Regions from separate parts of the Homo sapiens genome. Here region 1 is linked to region 2. Evidence: fine-mapped expression QTL. A gene starts in region 2. The other region holds a variant in brackets. All regions are shown on one strand. Distances are between the middles of the regions. Region 1 overlaps NAA30 (N-alpha-acetyltransferase 30, NatC catalytic subunit). Region 2 holds the start of SLC35F4-AS1 (SLC35F4 antisense RNA 1).

The links. PIP is the estimated chance that this variant, and not a neighbour inherited with it, causes the effect.
Region 1: its variant is fine-mapped to the expression of SLC35F4-AS1 in whole blood (TOPMed, PIP above 0.99). The same link has a PIP of 0.9 or more in blood mononuclear cells and lung.

Annotation. Positions count from the first base shown.
Region 1 is chr14:57,404,547-57,414,771 of GRCh38, reverse strand. NAA30 (N-alpha-acetyltransferase 30, NatC catalytic subunit) reads right to left here. Exons shown (of 5, transcript NM_001011713.3): 5 at 1-5,393. The coding sequence ends at 5,256. Among named protein-coding and RNA genes, the nearest start is that of NAA30, 19 kb to the right of the region's middle. The variant C/T (reference allele first, on the strand shown) is at 5,225.
Region 2 is chr14:57,572,924-57,583,148 of GRCh38, reverse strand. It overlaps SLC35F4-AS1 (SLC35F4 antisense RNA 1), which reads right to left and starts at 4,816. Exons shown (of 2, transcript XR_007064193.1): 1 at 4,144-4,816; 2 at 1-2,162. It overlaps SLC35F4 (solute carrier family 35 member F4), which reads left to right. Exons shown (of 8, transcript NM_001306087.2): 4 at 1,716-1,935. It overlaps LOC105370519 (a long non-coding RNA gene), which reads right to left. Exons shown (of 5, transcript XR_007064194.1): 4 at 7,903-10,225; 5 at 4,869-6,851. RefSeq lists an enhancer at 710-1,909.

The sequences.
Region 1 (10,225 bases), 170 kb after region 2:
TGTTTACTATGCCTATTTCTGCTCTTTTGATGAACTACACTTACCAGATGACCAGCGAGGGTCAAAGGTAATACACTGCGGTGATGGAAGGCAGAAAAATTAATCTGGTTCTTCTAGAAGTAACATTGGCCTTTGGCCTCATCCCCATAAGTGGATCTTGGAGGTTAAAAACATGATAGACCTCCATGTTCCAACTTGACCACTCATGAGATGACCAATCTCATTTAGAAGTGAAATGATTTCAAATTCATCAAAAATGAGAAATTATTAGAGCCAACTATACAAATATTTTAAGGCTAAAAAGGTAAGTCTCATCAGAAACAACTTTTGGCACTTGAATCTGCATCTCTGCAACCCAAGGAACTTCCAACAATAAAATCTGAAAGGGCTGCTTTTCTCAGAAAGGCTACATAACAAGGGCAGTGGTTGGTGGGGTGGAAAGTGGTCAAACACTGTATTAATGAAATATATTGTCAGTATAAACAGTTCAGCTATACTCTTGCTCAGAGGTAATTTTTAGTTGTGTTATTTTAAAAGATTTTTCAGAAACAGTCTTGCTATGCTGTCCTGGCTGGTTGCAAACTACCATCTCAGCCTCCCAAAACGCTGGGATAATAGGCGTGAGCCACCACATCTGGCCTAATTGTGATCCTTCCATTTTATCTTTCAACCTATACAAACACTCCCTTCCTGTTATTACTGCTTATCTAAAGCTCTGCTGTCCAATACAGTAGCCACAAGCCACATGTGGCTAACTTTGATTAAAATTACAAATTCAGCTCAATCATCCCACCCACACTTCAGGGGCTCAGTAGCTACACATGTGACTAGTAACTACCATACTGGGGAGTGAAAAGGACACATCTATCCTTATATAAAGTGTGACTGGACAGTAGTGATCTAAAGTGTAGCAGTGCTATATGCTTATGAGATCTTTTAAAAAACTTTTTAAAAGTTGCTTATAAAAAGAATATCATAGGCTGGGCGTGGTGGCTCACGCCTGTAATTCCAACACTTTGGGAGGCCGAGGCGGGCAGATCACTTGAGGTCAGGAGTTTGAGACCAGCCTGGCCAACATGGTGAAACCCTGTCTCATACTAAGAATACAAGAAATTGGCTGGGCGTGGTGGCATGCACCTGTAGTCCCAGCTACTCAGGAGGCTAAGGCACAAGAATTGCTTGAACCCAGGGGGCAGAGGTTGCAGTGAGCCAAGATTGTGCCACCGCACTCCAGCCTGGGCAACAGAGTGAGACTCTGTCTCAAAAAATAAATCTAACACCTCTGGGCTACAGGTTAATACTGATCTGTGTTTACTGGTGTGAAAAAATGGTATCAACCTTCTGGTTCTTATTTAGACCTTAGAGTGAATTTATGAAGTATTTCGAGTTCCACATAAGGCCCAAATAAAACAAACTCAGATACTTTTACAGTATTACTCTAAAGAATAATGTAAAGATTTGGCATGCATGATAAAAGTAATTTAGCAGTTAAATGATTAAAACAGATCATTTCATCCTTCCACTAAAATCCGAAAATCTTGACATACAGAAGTATTCACAGCTATTTAAAGCTCCTCACAAGACAGGGGCAAAAAGCTCTTTGGATATTGCTCTATTTTACTTTGGTGTCTTACCAAGGGTGGGATGGGGTGGGGGGAACATTACAGAGTGGCAGTGTACAGACAAAAAAGTAAATTAAAATAAAAACTGTCTTAGAAATAAACTGCTATGAAACAGACTAAAAAGATAAACTTTTGACTGAACACATGGAAAATGTACCGATAACTGACATATGAGTTGACTGAGTACTTTTAGAAAAATCAAGTTCATGTTATTTTCAAATTTACTTTGTCAGAACACACAACAGTGATGACAATTATGTAATACTTCTTCCCCGTAACTCTTAGATGAAAGGCAGGAAGCGGGAAACAATATATTGTTTGTTGCTGTTTTACTTAGTAGGTAAAAGCAAAACAACCCAATCATAAAATGCACACAGCTGTATCTAAAAGAAAAATGCAAACACAACTTAACCATACTTTATTTGACTGCATCTTATTTAGACAGCTTGCACATTTCAAATCCCATTAAATCTCTCTCCAAAAGGATATGGGACAATAGAAGAAAATTATGCAGCAATATCCAGTCAAACAGCAGTCCAATATTTTGAGATACACGTGATATTTTATAGATACTCAACTCATATCTGACGTCAATATAATTTATGGTTATGTTTTTACAAACCTGAAAGCCCTGTAACATTACAGCACTCATTTTAGTGATGTCATGGTGCACTGAAAAGTAACTCTGATGTACTACCAATTTGATTTTATCTATACTCCTGAAAAGTGATGAACTTCATGATTTTTAGACACCATAATAAATATACACATCCAGTCTTAGACATGTCAGCCAGTACCATAACACAGGGCAAGGTAAAGTTAAAACATGAAAAAACAAACTGCTTTACATAGATTTGTCGAGCAAGTGGGAAGGGTAATTTGGGAAAGAGGCAGAAAATATTAAAATCGATTTTTTATTTTTTCTTATTTTGCTGGTTTCAACTTCAAAAACTACCGTCTGGTTTCTGATCTGTGGACTTTGCTAAAGTAGTTTCATCCCAATGTACAGGAAATACAGGAAATTATAATCAGCCCACACATCAAAAATGATAGTATACCCGTTAGCTTCTTCAATACTAACATATATAGCTTCATGGTAGCATGTATAAAAATGTTCAGCAGTACCAACTGCCAAACCAGTGTCAGTGGATAGTACAGTCAGTCCTAAAGAGGCAGCACCCCATTAAAAGAAAGTTGCATCTATTTTGCTCAGTTGTAGCCAAGTGAACCCATGCTACCAATTTCAGATAGAATTGTTTTAAGCTTATTTAAGAAAAACAACAGCCTATTATCAAAAAGTAAATTACTGTTTGAGGCTACTTCAACCTGAATGGAGTCTTTCAGTGTTGGTGCTGGGTTTTCATGCTAGAGGTTAAAATTTTAATCTACTTAAGTAAAAATTTTTTTGCATACCCAATTAAAGACATAAGGCATACACTGACATTCAACATATTCCAAACAATATGGCAACCATCTGACTTTTTAGTCACACAGTTAACGTCATCTTTACAAACACCCAACCAGTTCAGTCAATTTGGCAATTTTGGAGGAAAAGGTCAGTATGATGGTTTCATTGACAATCTGGCAAAAACACTAAAATGGTTGAACCAATGATCTATCTACTTTACAACCATCCCTATTAGTGATTTAAGCAAATATATGTTCATCAACCATTATGTATCAACCAGCAAGTCAAATATAAAGAAGTGAAATAAAATTTGATGACATAAATGTTTTAGTTCCATTTCCTTCATATTAAATAACAAAAGCATCACTGTGATTGGTATTCTTCTAAATGCTAGTGCCTAAATGAAGTTTGACCAAAAACATATTGAAAGGCTGAGTACTGTGTGGTTACCATATTTTTATTATAACCAGTATTGTATTCTGCTCATTAAACTTTCAAGAGCAATATAAAAAGGAAAACATTTTCTTTAAAAATAAAGAACTATAAATAATCCCACCAGCAGAAAGTTTTTATTTTCAAATATAAATTGTGTATCTTTATTTTTAAAGTATTTGTTACTATGTTCACTTTCAAAACACTATACTGAGCAAAGAGCAGCTTTCCTTTAAAAAAAAAAAAAAAGCAACAAACTTTCCTGAAAAGGGGCCTTTACCAACTGTTAATGGAGGTAGGGTTTTTAAAAATACAGTAATTAGAGCCACAAAATATATTCCAAACCAAATACTAGAGCAGAAGTAGAGCATATTCAAATGAAAACAACAACAGATTCCTACAGTTTTCACAGAGAATGAATCTTTTTTCTTATGGGTACCTAGGTTTTCCAGTTAAATAAATTATCTATCACAGGTTTACTGACTCAATTGAAAGCAATTAACTGTAAAATTTGTTACATTGCACTGATTGGCCAAAACACAATGTAACTAATAAACATGGTGGCTGTTAAGAAAACCCACAGAACTCATTCCAAAAAAGATTTTCATTTCCCCCTTTTGTTTTTCTGGCAGAAGAAAAGCAAAGCTCCCCCAAGAATTTGCTCATACAAGTGAAAATAAAATAAAGCAGCTTAAAATGGATACAATGCACCTTGAAATTTATTTCCAAGACCAAGAACCTGAAGTGAAGCATTTTAAGAAATGAAAGCAATGTGAATCCAAATCAAGTGGGAAAAACAAATTCAGCTACTTTGTAAAAGCTGTTCTTCGCAGCGTAGCAGTAATTTTGATTAAATAAAATCATATCAACTTACACTAATTTTCTATTCTTTTCCAAAACTTCCCTTACTCTCAAAAGAAAAAGTGCATCTAAACCCCAGCAATTCCCGGCTCCATCAACTTTTCTTATCTCTTTTGAGCCATTTCTCAATTTTCCAAGTAGATTCAACTTGTTACTGTAAGGAAAAAGGGACTTCTAAAGTAAACCATTCTTTCATTCACCTGAAAAAAGTATCCAAATTATAAAAATCTGAAATAATTTATCAAATTTAGAATTTAAATAAAAACAAAAGTTTGCTTGCAAAGGCCTTAAAGAAAAGGAAAAGATAGCATGCATTCAAAAACTAGAGATGAAGACAAATATACTTATCTACACAGGCACTGGCAGACAAAATTTAATTGTTACCTTTACTCATTGTAAGACATACCCACCCTACATTTTTTTCATTCACTAATCACTGAGGTACCAATATTCAAGAATGGAAAATTTAATATTGAAAAAATAAAACCTAAAACTGAAGCGTCTCCCTCACCCACTTCAGAAAACTAGGGCAGGTTTTGTGTGAAATGTTAGTATACTTAAAGACTTTTACAATCCACATTGGCTTTTTTAAGGAACAAAAATTATGTTCCACTTACTGGTTCTGTGATAAAATGATCACTGTGTAAATAACATTGTCAGCAGACTTTGCAAATGAACACATAAATCTTGGCTATCAACTGGCACATCTTGTTGGTACCAAAAGAACTCCTGAAGTTTAAAACAATCTTTTAATTCAGAACAAATGTGCCATGCCAAAGTGCAACAAATATTGTGCGACACTCAATGAGACACTGACAGGTAAGAGCTGCATGGAAATTACTAAATCCACCTGCAAAGCAATTCTGTACAAATTGCATTGCATGCAAAGGTCGATTCTGTG[C/T]GGATGATAGTTGTTCCTTGATGTCAGTTTCTCAACGCAGCCACAGTTTAAGTCGCAGTGCATCAACTCCATTTAAATAGTATCTGAACAGCCTCTTATCTCGAACAAAACCAAGATTTTCATAAAGTTTCAAAGCGGACTTATTTGTTATTTCGGTTTCCAAAACAACCTTCAAAGAAATGAGAAAAAAACTAAGTTATAATTACACAATTTAAAAAATAATTTACCAACTAAACAATTTTTTAAAAAATCATACATTATTTTAAAAATTGATAGTGAAAACAATAAATAATATACAGAAAGAACTCAAAAACAGTCATCAAGATTGTAATATTATATTTGGGTCAAGGGCTTGGAGGACCACTGCAGATTTATCTTCTGTTCTACTGATTTGTGTAGTTTGAAATGTTTAGCAATGAGAGTATGTTTTATACTAAAACAAAGATTAATTATTTCCCTGTGGGGAAAGGTAAAATGACTACAGATGAAAATAAAATCAACAATCAAAAGTGCTGGTTTATTTCCTTAAAATAATAAGCTATATTATTATAAGCAGCTATTCAGATTGACTTCCAACTTCTGTATTTTCATTAATATGTCATTTATTCTGGCAATAACTACCATATTTGTCTGGAGTCTCGACCAGAGTCTGCAAACTATAGACTTTGGGCCAAATGTGCCTGCTGTTTTGTAAATAAAGTTTTAGTCAAACAGCCATGTTTATTTGTTTACATGATGTCTGTGGTGGCTTTCTCAATACAAGGGCAGAGCTGAGCAGTTGCCACAAAGACCTATGGTCCACAAAGCCTAAAATAATTACTAGTGGGCCTTTTACCAAGAAAGTTTGCTGAATCCAGACAAGAGGTATTCAAAATGTTACAGTGTATCATAATCACCTGAAGGGTCTGTTAAAATAGATTGCTGAGCCCCACCCTCAGAGTTTATGAGTACGTTTGCAGTAGGACACAAGAATCTGCATTTTTAATATTTTTAAATTGCTAGATGATGATGTTGCTGCGGTCAAGGGACCACATTTTGAGAACCACTGGTCTATATAGCAAAGCTTAACAGAGGAACACATAGTATTAACTTTCATTTAAGTCTTTTGAAATATTACTGAGCCAGTGGCCCTGACAATGAATAACTGGTATTTTTGAAAACTGCGATTTTATTTTTACCTCCCTCTAACACCCTCTACCCCATCTTCCCAACTTTTACACACGTAGCTCTATTTGCCTTTTCAATTGTTTCTCAACTTATTTCATTGAGAACTATCAACACAGTGAGCCACAGTTACTATTGGGTGTCATAACCCTCAAGTGTTTGGAGTGGGTGGGGGGGAAATGGCAAAGTATAATTAAACAAAGGCCCAAGTGAAGCATAAGTCTCTTCCTGTTCTTTCTCAAGCTATCAAAAAGTCTGACAAGAATGCAAACAACTGATGCAAATAATAAAGACAGTACCTCAACTTATATCCAAAATTGAACTCATAATCTGCTCTTCCTCCTCAATTCCATATCTCAGTAAACAGGATCACCCCCCACCACACCAATGCCTCAAACCTGAAACCCAGGAGTCATCTTTGAACCTCATTCCTCTCCAACCACCTATATGCATCCAAGCACTGATTATTGTCAATTCTCCCTCTTAAATCTCTAAGTGGTCCTCTTCTTTCTATGCTCGATATACCACAGTCCAAGCTGCCATCAACTCTCACTATAATTACAAGAGCCTCCTAACTCAAGAGGTCTCCCATTCTCTCTAGAGTTAGGGTGATGCTCTTGTTAATTCTCTACTTAAAACCGTTTACTGATTCCCTCTTGTCCTCAAGAGAAAGTCCACAATCTAAAAATAATATCAAGAGACATAAAAAGTCCATCAATATATTGGCCTCAGCTTTGCTTTAGGTCTCTCTCTTCTTGCTTTCCATGCTCAACACTGAATTTTCAGTTTCTGGAACCCACCATGATCTTTCCCACCTTAGAACATTCAAATAAACTGTTTTCTGTCTAGAAGAATGCTCTTCCTATCCTCCTCTCTTTTGGCCCTACCTTGTCACTTCTGGATTGGGTACAGTGCCCCTTTCCTTTTATATCACCCAGCAACATTCTGCACCGTTCCTATGACACATTCTTATTCAACATTTGATGAGTGGTATGTCATCTCTCCTAGCTGGTAAGCCCAACAACAGCAGGGACCAATGCTAAATCTAAACCTTTAAAAGATCTAAAATGAAGTAATTAACAGTTCAGGATCAAGAAAACACGCTCCTAAGAAAACCTAAAATACAAGTTGTACAGCAAACAAATTGGTTTAAGTAAACGTCAATTTCTCTCTGCACTTAAAAAAAACACAATTTGGCCAGGTTTGGTGGCTCATGTCTATAATCCCAGCACTTTGGGAGGTCAAGGCAGATCACTTGAGCCCAGGAGTTTGGGACCAGGCTAGGCAACGTGGTGAAAGCCCATGTCTAAAAAACCTTAAAAATTAGCCAGGTGTGGTGGTGTGTGCCTATAGTCTCAGCTACTTGGAGGGGCAGAGGTGGGAGGATCACTTGAGCCGAGGGGGTTGAGGCTGCAGTGAGCTGTGAGTGCACCACTGCACTCTAGCCTGGGTGACAGAGCGAGACTCTGTCTCAAAAAACAAATTAAAATACTCACACATACACACACAGACATAATTAAATTTCTAGTAACGTATGTCATACTAGAGTCTGTAACACCACAGTCTGGTCAATACAAGTTTTTAGTTTTTAACAATTCTCTTGGGTAATTCCTGCAATTGTTATGAGGTCCAGCACCTAATTATAGCTAAAATGTTGAATCAAAGCAATTTAATATGAGAAACACTAAAGTCACAACAACTCAAAACTTGGAATTGATTTCACGTAAATAAAAAGTGACAATTTTAAAATATGACAGCTAATATTTATTGGAGCTGTACTATGTGCAATGTAAAGCATTCTATATGTATTATGTAGTTTTATTTTCACAATAACCCTATGAAATTGATGTGGTTATCCATTTTACAGATGAATAAAACTCAAGGCCACCAACAGAGCAAGGACAGAACAGAGTCCAATTATGAACTAAAGCTTAATAGTAACTACTCTACTGTACCTCCCCCTCATTTCCCAAAGTAAAGCAAAGCAGTGACTGGGAAATCTAACCTACTTAAGACAAGATGAAATGGATTTTAAGTCCACCATCAATATTTAGCAATCTAAAATATTCCAAACACATCTGAGGCTACCACCACTACACAAATACACACTTAAAGTGTGGTTAAGAACTGAGTTCAAGTTTGTTTGCATCCTAATATATTAATGAAATGAAGCTCAATTACATAGAAAAAAGTTACACCAATGTCTAATCTAGTCAAAATGTAAAGATTCTCCTGGCACACTCATATTTTCTAAACAAAGAGATTCTTTCTTTAGAAAATTATTTGACACAACAGAAAAATGCCAGGATAAAGTAACTAATTTTTAATTCTTAAATTCTTATAAACATATTAAAAGAATATCTGAATTTATATTAGAAATTCACCATAAAATGAAGTTATTTTGGTCCTAAAGAAACTTGACAGAGTTGAATTCTACCTAACAGAAAAAAAAATTACAGTGAAATTCCACCGATCCTCTTAGCAACAGTAACAGATCATTATCAGGATAAGCCAAACCATTACAAAACATTACTGCTTAAGATAGTATTTTTTAATACTGTAGGCTGGAAGCTCCTGGAGAGCAGGCTTGTTCACTGCTAGAACTTTAGCACTACCACACTGTCTGGCACCTAGAAGCCCTTCCACTGCTATTTCCTGAATGAACAACAAACAGTACTGCTCTTCACAACGTATCTTTAAGATCAGAATTAACATCATGTTGCATAGACAAAGAGAGAGACCAGAAAAAGTTAAATGGCCTGCCTACAATCACACAACTGCCAAGTGACAGAAGATAAATATGGAAACCAGGTGTCTCATAATCAGTTATTAGGCCAAACTACTCACCCAAAATCCTTGCAGCTTAACTAACCCCACTGTATTCTGTTCTTTACCTTGCAGGCTCTATCACATAGCATAATGTTTCCAGTGAAACTAAAGATGTTTTATATATATATATATACACATATATATTATTAGTAAATACATAATAAACACAATAAATATAGTCTAATTAAAAAGATAAAAAGTAACCTTTTATAATGGGGGAAAAAGAATGACTGTACCTTTTCTAAGTTGGACTTTTCTAATTTAGAAAAGTATAAGTTATTTCAAAAAATAACTTAGATCTTCTTGGCTCCTAATAATCTAATTTACTCATTAGTGCTAATGTGATCTATTTTATTCTTTTAATTGTACAAAATAGAGTCAGCTACTATATTATCTAAAATTTACCAAAATGTCTTTTGCATTACCTTTATATTGCTAGAAATAAGTAGCATTAAGTAGGTCAAGCAAATCAGGTTGCAGGGAAAGTCATGGGTTTGAATAGCAGATTGTAAACAGTCTGCCGCAAGTTACATGGCATACTATTTACAGAAGAAACTGTCTAGTAAAAATAAATGTACGCAACAAAAAAAGAATGGAAAGAAAACACCAAATTGGATGTGTGATACTGTTTGGCTGTGTCTCCACCCAAATCTCATCCTGAATCCCCATGTGCTGTGGGAGGGACTTGGTGGGAGTCTCTAAATCATGGGGCAAGTCGTTCCCGTGCTGTTCTCGTGAGTGAATTAAGTCTCACGAGATCCGATGGTTTTAAAAAGAGGAATTCCCCTGCACAAGCTCTCTTCTCTTTGCCTGCCACCATCCACGTAAGATGCGACTTGCTCCTCCTTGCCTTCTGCCATGATTTTGAGGCTTCCCCAGCCATGTGGAACTGTAAATCCAACGTGGTACTCTTTCTTTTGTAAACTGCCCAGTCTCAGGTATGTCTTTATCAGCAATGTGAAAACGGACTAATACAACGTGCTAGAAAGGTAGGTAGTGAACTTTCTT
Region 2 (10,225 bases):
CGTGTGTAATTTCTGTTTACATTACAGAAGGCTTTAAAGTTAAAATTTATCTTTGGGAAATCTTACTTTCATTTTACAAAAATCCTTCCTTTTTGGAAGCCTCCTTACATGAAAGTAAACAAATTTCAATACAAGTTTCTGTGTGTGCAACACATGTCTTTAACCTTCCTGGAACCGGTGACCTGCAACTCCCAACATTCTCATCCAGTTGAAAGTCACATTTACTATGAAACTTAATCTTTAAGGCTATACTCCCTGTGCCTAATTCTTTGTCACTCCTCCTCTCCACGTGGTCCTTTTTTGGGGTTATTCATGTGAGGCAAACATTGGCTAGAATTTACTTTGATTTGCAATACTTTGAGGCACACTAATTTCAGTTAAAACTGGAAAAGAAACTAGTACTAGAGTCCTGTAAATAGATTTCATTATAAACATATACTACTCATGAAAATACAATGCCTGGAGCATGACAGTTACCCCATAAATACTTGAATGTTCATGAACAATCGAGTGGGAAAAAAATTAAAATTCTCCCAGTGGTAAGTCTGTCTTCAGTCCATAGTCGTATAGGTACAGTCATTGTATCACTTCCATTATTGCCTGTATGTATTGCTAGCTTGAACATTTTTATTAAAATGGCCCCTCAGAGCCAGGTGCAGTGGCTCTTGCCTGTAATCTCAGCACTTTGGGAGGCCAAGGTGAGCAGATCACCTGAGCTTAAGAGTTTGAGACCAGCCTAGGCAACAGAGTGAAATCCTGTCTGTCTCTACAAAAAAATTTCAAAAACTAGCCTGGCATGGTGGTGCGTGCCTGTAGTCCCAGCTACTCAGGAGGCTGAGGTGTGAGGATGGCTCGAGTCTGGGAGGCGGAGGTTGCAGTGAGCCAAGATCATGCTACCGCATTCCAGCCTGGGTAAGAGAGCCAGACCTAGGGGGAAAAAAAAAATCATGTTTAGGCCTAGGACTTAAAGGAAAAAAATGGCCCCTGGGGCTAAATGTAGCCAACTTCCTTGAAAAATCAAACAAACCGAAGATTTAACAATTGAAGTGACCATTTTCTCACACCGAATTTAGACAATTCCTCCAAAAGGGCCAAATGTTTGTATATAAGTACAACCTGAGTTTTCTATTATAGTTTTTATCATGTGGGAGTTATCACAGGGACTTCATTTTTCTGCCTTAAAAATGCTGGCAGGAAAAAAAATTAGTCAATTGGGCAGATATATTAGAAAGTGGCTTAGTGTCTTAGAAATAAAATCCAAAAACATGTGTGCTGCACAGATGTATGAGGGTCCCTTTCCCTCCGGGTTCTAGGAGTTGTCTGTAGCCCGTTCACAGAGTAGTAGCAGCCTTGACCCTCTCTCGTTTGCCCACCCTCTTCCAATAGCTAGTGATTTCAGCAACTACCAATTTCGGTATTTCTGCAGGCTCTTCTGAGAATGCTCAAAAACGACAGAATGGCTTTTCAGGCAACCTCCAGAGACTATCTCAGAGAAGAGAGCCTAACTCTGTGCTTGGGCACATGTGGGCTATTTTCCAAGGAACCTCATACACTCCCTGAAGCCCGCAGATTTCAGAACTGGGTTCAGTATACTTCACAATGAAGGATGGGTATTGAGTGTTTGTGCTCTTACCTGAAAATGGCTGCGATGAGTCAGATAAGACAAGAGGTGTCACCATCAGTACCTGGATATTAACTTCTCTTTTCTTTCCTAGGGAATGCAGTCGGATTTTTGGTGAAGATGGTCTGACGCTGAAACTCTTTCTTAAAAGAACTGCTCCCTTTTCTATTCTATGGACTTTGACTAATTACCTTTATTTACTGGCTTTAAAGAAGCTGACGGCCACGGATGTCTCCGCTCTGTTCTGTTGTAACAAAGCCTTTGTCTTCTTGCTGTCATGGATTGTGCTGAAAGACAGGTTCATGGGAGTGAGGGTAATGGCATACTTGATTCAATGCGCGATGCCTGCCTTTTTCATAACTCCTTGGCTTCAGGAGAGCCTGTCTGCTTTGTTTCGTGGAGTTGCTGTAAAACTTTTCTCACTTGTTCTGAGTACAAACCGAAATCTGAAGACGCATTAGAAAGCCCAGGCAGTTGCAACATCATAGAAGGATAAACAGTTTGTTTCCACTGGTTAGTGAGCTCATTCCAACAGGAGGCACTAAAACAGGCAGAGAAAACAAGTTCCTATATTAGAATTAATTTTTAGAACTAATGGTGTGTTCACCTCCTTCTGTCCTCAGGAACGAAGGGTCTGAGAAAATTAGCCACTATAAAGATTATGGTTTGCATTTTTCAATCAACATATGTTGAGATGACCCCCCATTCCCCCCACCAGATGGACTTAATTAATATTGGTGTAAGTAGATAAGATTACCAAACAGTAATTAAAGTCACTGGTAATGGCACAATGCTGTTAAAAGTGACTATATATCTAGTGTGACTAATGCAGAAATGGAAGTACAAGCAACAACTTCTTTTGGATACAAATCCTTAATTGAACTGCATTAAACTTCCACCAACAACTTCAGTTCTGAGTTTATTCCTTTCAGGAGTAATATGGATTAAAAACATATATATTTATATGCTTGTTCTATGTTAAAAATAGATTGCTGGGAAGCCCTGAAGATTTAAGGAGCCAGATCTCATTCATATAATCCGGCATGCCACTATGATGAACATATTGAGACAACACTTCTTTAGAAGGAGGTATAAATGAATTGCCTTTTCTCAGAGTATCAATATTACACAACTTATCTTCTCTGAAAGAGATGTCCAAGATAGATAGAATTTGAAACATATTTTGTTATAAAAACATTGCTCTTATTGGCAATGATTCCAAGGTCCTTTCCCCCTCCCAAATGCTGAAACTAATGTCTATGTTAGAGAGAGGGTTTATGATGGTCATTAACCCTGAAAGATTTTCTTAAGAAAACAGTTAGTTAGACAATTCTGATTGTATCTTGGGAGATGCTGCTCTGAAATTTAGAAATGAAGCTTCATATTAATAAGTAGAAAGTTTTGATAGAAGACAAAATCAGAAACTGTGAGTCAGTCCATGATACCATTACAGTATATCCAAATGTGACACTACATTCTTTACTGGCTTATCTTAGATTTGACCCCAAAGGGCTCAGCATCACATATTTATGTCTGGGGCACTGGTGCTGGCTGTCTACCATCAGATACCCTGACAAGTCCTTGAGAGCTGGAAGCTTTCCTATATTGTCCACTGTTCTTTTCAAGATCTGCTACATAATCCATGGGGCCCAGTGCAAAATGAATATTAATAATTTTAAGATAACAACAACAGAGCACTGAGCCAAGGGTGGGGACCTTCCAAGCACAAGGCCCTATATATCAACATAAGTCATCCCCTAGGAAGTCAGCTGTCTCTACTTCCAATGTCTAGAATATTACAGGGCACGAAGTGGGGGTTCGATTGATATTTGAGGATATAGTAAATGAGTTCATACTTCTGAGATCTTTCTTTTCACTGTCTTTCACTATCATGGACCACCCATAAGAACCTGGAGAGCCTTGTCAGAAGAGGGGAGAAGAGAGATTTGGAGGCTCTTTTGTTCTTTTAGTGGCGTGCAAATACCAACATTAAATCCATATTTTCACCATTAGATATACCAGCAATAAAATCCGTTGTATTAAAGCAAATGAGCACATTTAACTCATGGACCTCACTGATGCAAGAGGTTACGTCCAAAAAGGTACAGTGTTTATTTGAGGTATTTTAGAGAAAAAGAAAACAACTGTGTAACTTATCTTTAAATAGCAGATTTTAAAAATCAAAAATCTGCCTATAGGCTACCAACCATTGCCATTTAAAATTTGCCATCTGCAGTGGGTTGAGTGGTGACTCCAAAAAAGATCTGTCCACATCTTAATCCCCCAAATCTGTCACTGTGACCTTATTTGGATAAAGGGTCCTTGCAGATATTATTAACTTAAGGATCTTGAAAAGGGGACATCATATTGGATTATCTGAGTGGGACCTAAATCCAATAACAAGTGTCCTTATGAAAGACTCACAAAAGAGACACACACAGAAGAGGAGGTGGCGGCAATGTGATCACAGACACAGAGATTGGAGTGATGTGGTCACCAGCCAGGAATGCCGGGACACTCACCAGAACCCTGGAAGAGGCAAGGACTGTATCCTTCCTTAGAGATGCCTTTGGTCCCAGCTGTATTTTGAACTTCTGGCCTCCAGAACCGTGAGAGAATAAATTTCTGTTGTTTTAAGTCACCACGTTTGTGGTAATTTGTTACAGCAGCCTTAGGAAACTAATACAGCATCTGTAATTAATAACACTCAGTAGAGGAAATGTTAAATAGCTAATAAGTACTTGTTAATAAATATATCCATAAGTGAAGACATCATAGATAGCAGAATAGTAAGCATTAGTGTCAGGCATCCTGTAAAAATCAAATATTTTTCTTTTTAAGTAAGAGGAAGTGCTTCACTTCTCATTGTGAAACATTAGGACATGTTCAATGCGATGTTCCGGAAGAATGGTAACGTGTAATTTAATGATGCCCATAATCAGGCCATGGAATGTGAGAAGCACTGAAACATATTCAGCATTTTGCCTTTGACAGTATCAGCAATTATTTTCCTCCCAAGACATATTGAGAACACATATAATTAGGTCATTTGAGAAATTAAACGAGGGCAAACAGCACTGACAACATAAATGTAGCTCTTATTGCCCACATCTATAAATAATCTAAAGCATAGCCCCTCCAGATGTCATCCCACTGGACTACTCAAAAAAAAAAAAAAAAAAAAAAAAAAAAAAAAAAAAAACAGTTAAAGGGATGCTTTCAGTCATCAGATTAAAATTTATATTTCTAGTTCATGCTAAAGCATCAGTAGTTTAGAAACAGATGTTTGTTGGATTATAATTTTCATATGCTTAGCTCCCCAGGAATGAGCACATTTAAAATGAGAAGCTATGGCCTTCCCTACTTCTAATTTTTTTTTTTAATGTAAAAAGAACACCATGAACAGAGTGAAAGACACTTTAAGTTACAACATCATAAATATGGGTTTATCCGGACCACAAGTAGGCCAGAATTACTAATGCTCACATAAAAATGAATTATGTATTATGAATAACTTGCTAATATTTTGTTTCTTTTGAACACTGAATTACAGATGGAAAGGTAATCTGTTTTACATTTAGTATGAAGTCATTTCAGCCCATTTATTGGTAATCTATGATGTGTTATAAAAAGCCCTTTCATGAGCAAATTGCTTGCAGCTAATCTGTGATCATCCCATGAAAATTAGTAAACTTCTTTAAAAGATAATTTTTTGATTGCAAAAATGTTAGAAAGTGATAATCCAGCTCTTGCAGCCTTGAAAATAGGTGTTCTCCTGTCTCTCAGACCTTATTATGTTTAGCTAGAGTTCTTAAATTCGTAAGAACCAGAGAACCCACCTTAATTTTTTTTTTTTTAAAAAAAGGTTCTTCCCAAGGGGAATGTGCCACTGGCTGGGAGCTTTCTTCTCTGCTGTTGGTATCTGTTTTACACCAATGAAAAGTAGATGCCAGACTAGAATGGTAGAAACTTTCTTTCAGATTTTGTCCCTCTCTTATTTTTTTATACTATTCATTCAAATTTTTCTTATATTTTCCAATTTCCTTGAAGATATGGAGAATGTTGGTGGTTGGTGGATGGTTCAGCAGATCCCAACTGTCTTAGCAGACTGTGAAATGCATTAGTGTCCCTCTGGCTTGGGAGCCACATATTTTCCAGCTATATTTGGGTCCCTGTGCAGTTAGTTAGCTTCCCAAACTATAGCTGTTTTCAAAGACTTTCCAGGATCTACCAAAAACTGACTGAAGTACATCAGTTAAACTGAATCTTTCATGGTATAGCATATACTTCTTTGAATTCAAATTGGGCCCCTGAAGGCTAAAACAGTACATTGGAGCTGAGCTGCTACTGATTTATGCTGATATTAAATATTAAGAATTAAGATGACACGTAACTTGACAATTTGTTTCCATCTTGCCTTTGGCTCCTCTTTATTCATGTGCAATGCAGAATTCTCTGCCCAGAGCTTCCATGCTTCCTGGAAGAGGCAGTGGAGGATGGACAGTGGGAGTCATCCTCCCTCTTACCCCTATCTTGGCAGGACAATGACTTATGAATATAGCCAAGAGAGGAGACAGCTGGGTTGTGCTGGCTGTCCGATTTTACACCCTCAAGGAATCTGTAACCCCTTCAACATGGTGCAGTCAATGTGTCTACCCTCCACATATATCCTTCACTCTTTCTTCGTGGGATTTCTTTACAACTTTGACATCCAGGTCTCCCTCTGAGATCATTTTCAAATGGATTTTATTCAGATAAAAATCCATGCATGTAGGGAGAGGGGGAGTTCAGAGGCCCAGCATCCCTTGGGTTTGCTGCTATCCAAGGTACCCCCCTTCCCCCTGTCACACACAGCATCTGGACAGCTATAGATTGCCACACCTCTTATTTTTCACATTTCAGCACTTGTTCAGTTTAATTGAATCTGAGTAAAAAAGAAAGTTTTCCATAGAACCTTAAATATAACATATGCAGAAGTTTAAGGATTCTGTATAGCCATAGTTCCTTGAAAATCAACTGTATCTAAATTTACCCAGAGAGATAATCATTAGCATGTTTCTCATTCGTCAAACTATTAATGTGTGTCCCAACCTCAACTACTGACCTTTAGTCTTCAACTTGAGCACAGCAGCTGCCAGCAGTGTGGTCTGAGATCTGCATTTTTAGGGGCTGCTGTAGGCTTTGGAATTCAAGGGTTCATTTGTGAACCAGCTGCTTCATACTCACCTAGCTTCAAGAAACAGAATTAGCCTCAAGGCAAAGTAAGGAAACATGTTTGGATTATAATCAGTCATCTTGACCTTTAAAATCTTAAAGGAACACTGTAGGAAGAGAAGCAACTAAAGGTTCATCCAATGCCTTGGACCCTAAAAGAGCTGGTACTGTTATGCAAATAAGAATTGTGAAAACCATCTGTGAGTGGGAACCATAGTGAATGGGATCAGGTTGATAAACCCTCATGGAGATGCACAGAAGGACCAAACCTTTGTGGGCTTTTGATGGCCCGAGCCAAAAGAGAAAAAGAAAAAAGAAAAAAAAAAGATACAAGAAAACAAAAACGGCCAAAAGCCAGATATTTCTTTAGGCTTTATCTGTACAAACTAATTATTTGAAAGATAAAAGAAACACCCTCCATGCAGGGTCACAGGTAGCATTTAGTACAGTGAGATCACCAAATGTCCACTGGTAAAGCCCTCTTTGGGCTTTAGGAACAGGCTCAAATGGCCACACGGATCCCTTCTGATTGGCTCTGAAAATTAGTGCAGAGAGCTGTCTGAGGGCCCCAGCCTGCAGAGGAAGATAGCTGGCTCACGAGGCCATGCCACTCAACTGGCATGCTGAGATAATGGGCTAAATAAATCCTCTTCCTTCAATGACTCACCCCAGGTGGGCACACCACAATGTGTGAGGGCAGAGAGGTTTAAACATTTTAAATGGAGGCATTGGCAGTTTTATGGTCACTATGGTTACTAACATTCTCACCTAAGCCAGGTTCAGATAATGGTAATGGTGAGTTTTTTTTTTCCCCATCTTTTTTGTTTGTTTTTGAGACAGGGTCTAATTCTGTTGCCCAGGCTGGAGTGCAGTGATGTGATCTCAGCTCACTGCAACCTTCACCTCCCAGATTCAAGAGATTCTCCTGCCTCAACCTCCCGAGTAGCCGGTATTACAGGCATGTGCCACCAAAGCACGGCTACTTTTTATATTTTTAGTAGAGATGGGGGTCTCGCCATGGTTGGCCAGGCTGGTCTCGAACTCCTGACCTCAAGTGATCCACCCACCTGGGCCTCCCAAAGTGCTGGAATTACAGGCGTGAGCCACTGTGCCTGGCCTAGTTTTCCATCTTATTTAGACACTTCTGGTTGGTTAAGAGGCTGGAACTGGAATAGATTGTCAAGAGACAGATTTTTCAGAAGCCGAGCAGGTGGCACCACTAGATGGTGTATTTTCAGCAGAAGAATTCCTCTCATGGATGTTAATGTGTCCCAGGAGCACTTTAGTGGTTGTCTTCATGTGAATGAACACATATGAGCATTTTTGACACAATATTTTAGGCACTGGCTTCCTGCAGACACATTTCCAGAAAGCTGAGGCCAAGAAGAGTCGTTTTGTGTTTTTCTGTTGAGAAGAACAGAGTATTAATCCCTCTTTGATGACTGATTGATTCTGAAAATGTGTGTGACTGATACGTGCTTAGGATATTTGTTCTCCAGACATCTAAAGAGTATTTACTCTCTAAAGTTAAACCAGTGGTGCCAAGCAGAGCCATTCTGAGATCACCCAAACAACCACTCCACAATTTTTCCTCATTTTCAAGATTAGTTGAGATCTCTTCCTTCACTTACAACAGTATAGATAAGAAATATATTTAAAATTTCTTAAAATATAGCCATAGAGAATTTGACCTATCAGATATTTTTGAAATTTAAACTAAAATGTGGCAAATAATTTATCTATTCCCACTATACCCTCCACCCGCACCCTGCCCCAGGAACATACTATATAACTTATGAATTACTGCTCATGTCATGGAGAATTTTTCTAACATTTCAAATATTCAGATTTTCATTCTTTCAGAACTTAACAGCATTGTCTGACCCCCTAAAGTGAAAAATGCTTCTCTCTGTGAAGGCAATTGAAAGAGACACTGCTGTAATTGACATGTCAATTTAAGTGGTCCAGGCTAATATTTTCACAAGCACTTGAATATAACGAGTAATGAAGATCTTTAAGAGGCTCACTATGGTTATAATTTTGAATTGCTACAGAGTTATGTAATCTTTACCCATGTTCAATTCCTATCTTGAGGAAACATAATAGAAACTTTATGCATATCTATTTTTACTAGTAGCTAACTCAGAAAAGGAAGAGTTCCTACCTGTGGTCATATCTTGGGGATAATGAAACCAACTGCCTGTCCTTTTCTAGACAGGATTTTGTTTTGTGCTTTGGGGTTTTTTAATTGGTTTTCACAATTTTCTAAACCCAGAATTACATACTACAGTGTGTAATTGCCTAAACCCATGTATTATGTATTATAGAATGCTTTTAATAATTTAAAATATAAAATAGCACATCATGTGAAAGTTCGTTAGGATTTACAGTTTTGTTAGCCTTGGCTTCAAGTAACCGCTTGTTTATTTGACCTAGAAAATGCAATGCTTAGCTAAAAGAAAACAAACGTTAACTCAAATGTATTATCCCGTCAGTTCAGTCTTATGAAGGAAATCTATTTGTGCACATGAACACTAACCAGTGAACATCATTTAAACACAAAACCAAATCAGGATATGCCAATATCTAATGTGCCTTTTTTATTTCCCTGAAATCAGATCCCCCAAAGAACTGTTGCAAATCCCCAAATCAAGGAAAATGATAACCCTCATAGAATTTCCAGGTCTAGATAACCCCCTCACTGTGTGTATTGATGAGTCTAGACCTTTATCCAGGTCTAGATAACCCCCTCACTGTGTTTATTGATGAGTCTATTACTTATTATTTAGAAATCTCCTTGACACCTAAATTCTTAAATTCTATTCCTTATAGTTTAAGGCCAAGTCTAACCAGAACACACACCCGGCAGCTTCAGAGAATATGATATTCACTCAGCAAGAAAACCACCTCCCATCAAGCAGCCTCCTGGATAATGTTTAATGAAGATGGTTTTTCACTGCTGACATGTCTATGTCTATTCTCAAGTACTCCTGCTGTTTTTCATTAAGGACACTTTAATATGGAGCTACTCTGAAACCAAGTGGGCCCTTGCTTTTGGTGGCCACTAACAAAAGACATGCTTTAGCAGCGTCTGAATTCTATGTAATTGGGAACATACTTTGCAGTGGCCTCAAGCGAGTCAGTAATTACATGTTAAAAATCTACGTTATAAAAAACAATTCACTAATAGTGTTCAAAAGGGCCCCCGAAAATCACATATGTTAAAAAGCTATCTTTACTTGGGAATTTCTTTACTGGGAATACTCAGAACTGAAGAATTTCTTTACTTGGGAATACTCAGAACTGAAGCTTAACAAAATTAATCACCATGTAGGTTTAAATTTCTCACCAATTTTCATCTGGATTTTAAAGTCAGTGAAACCATTTCAC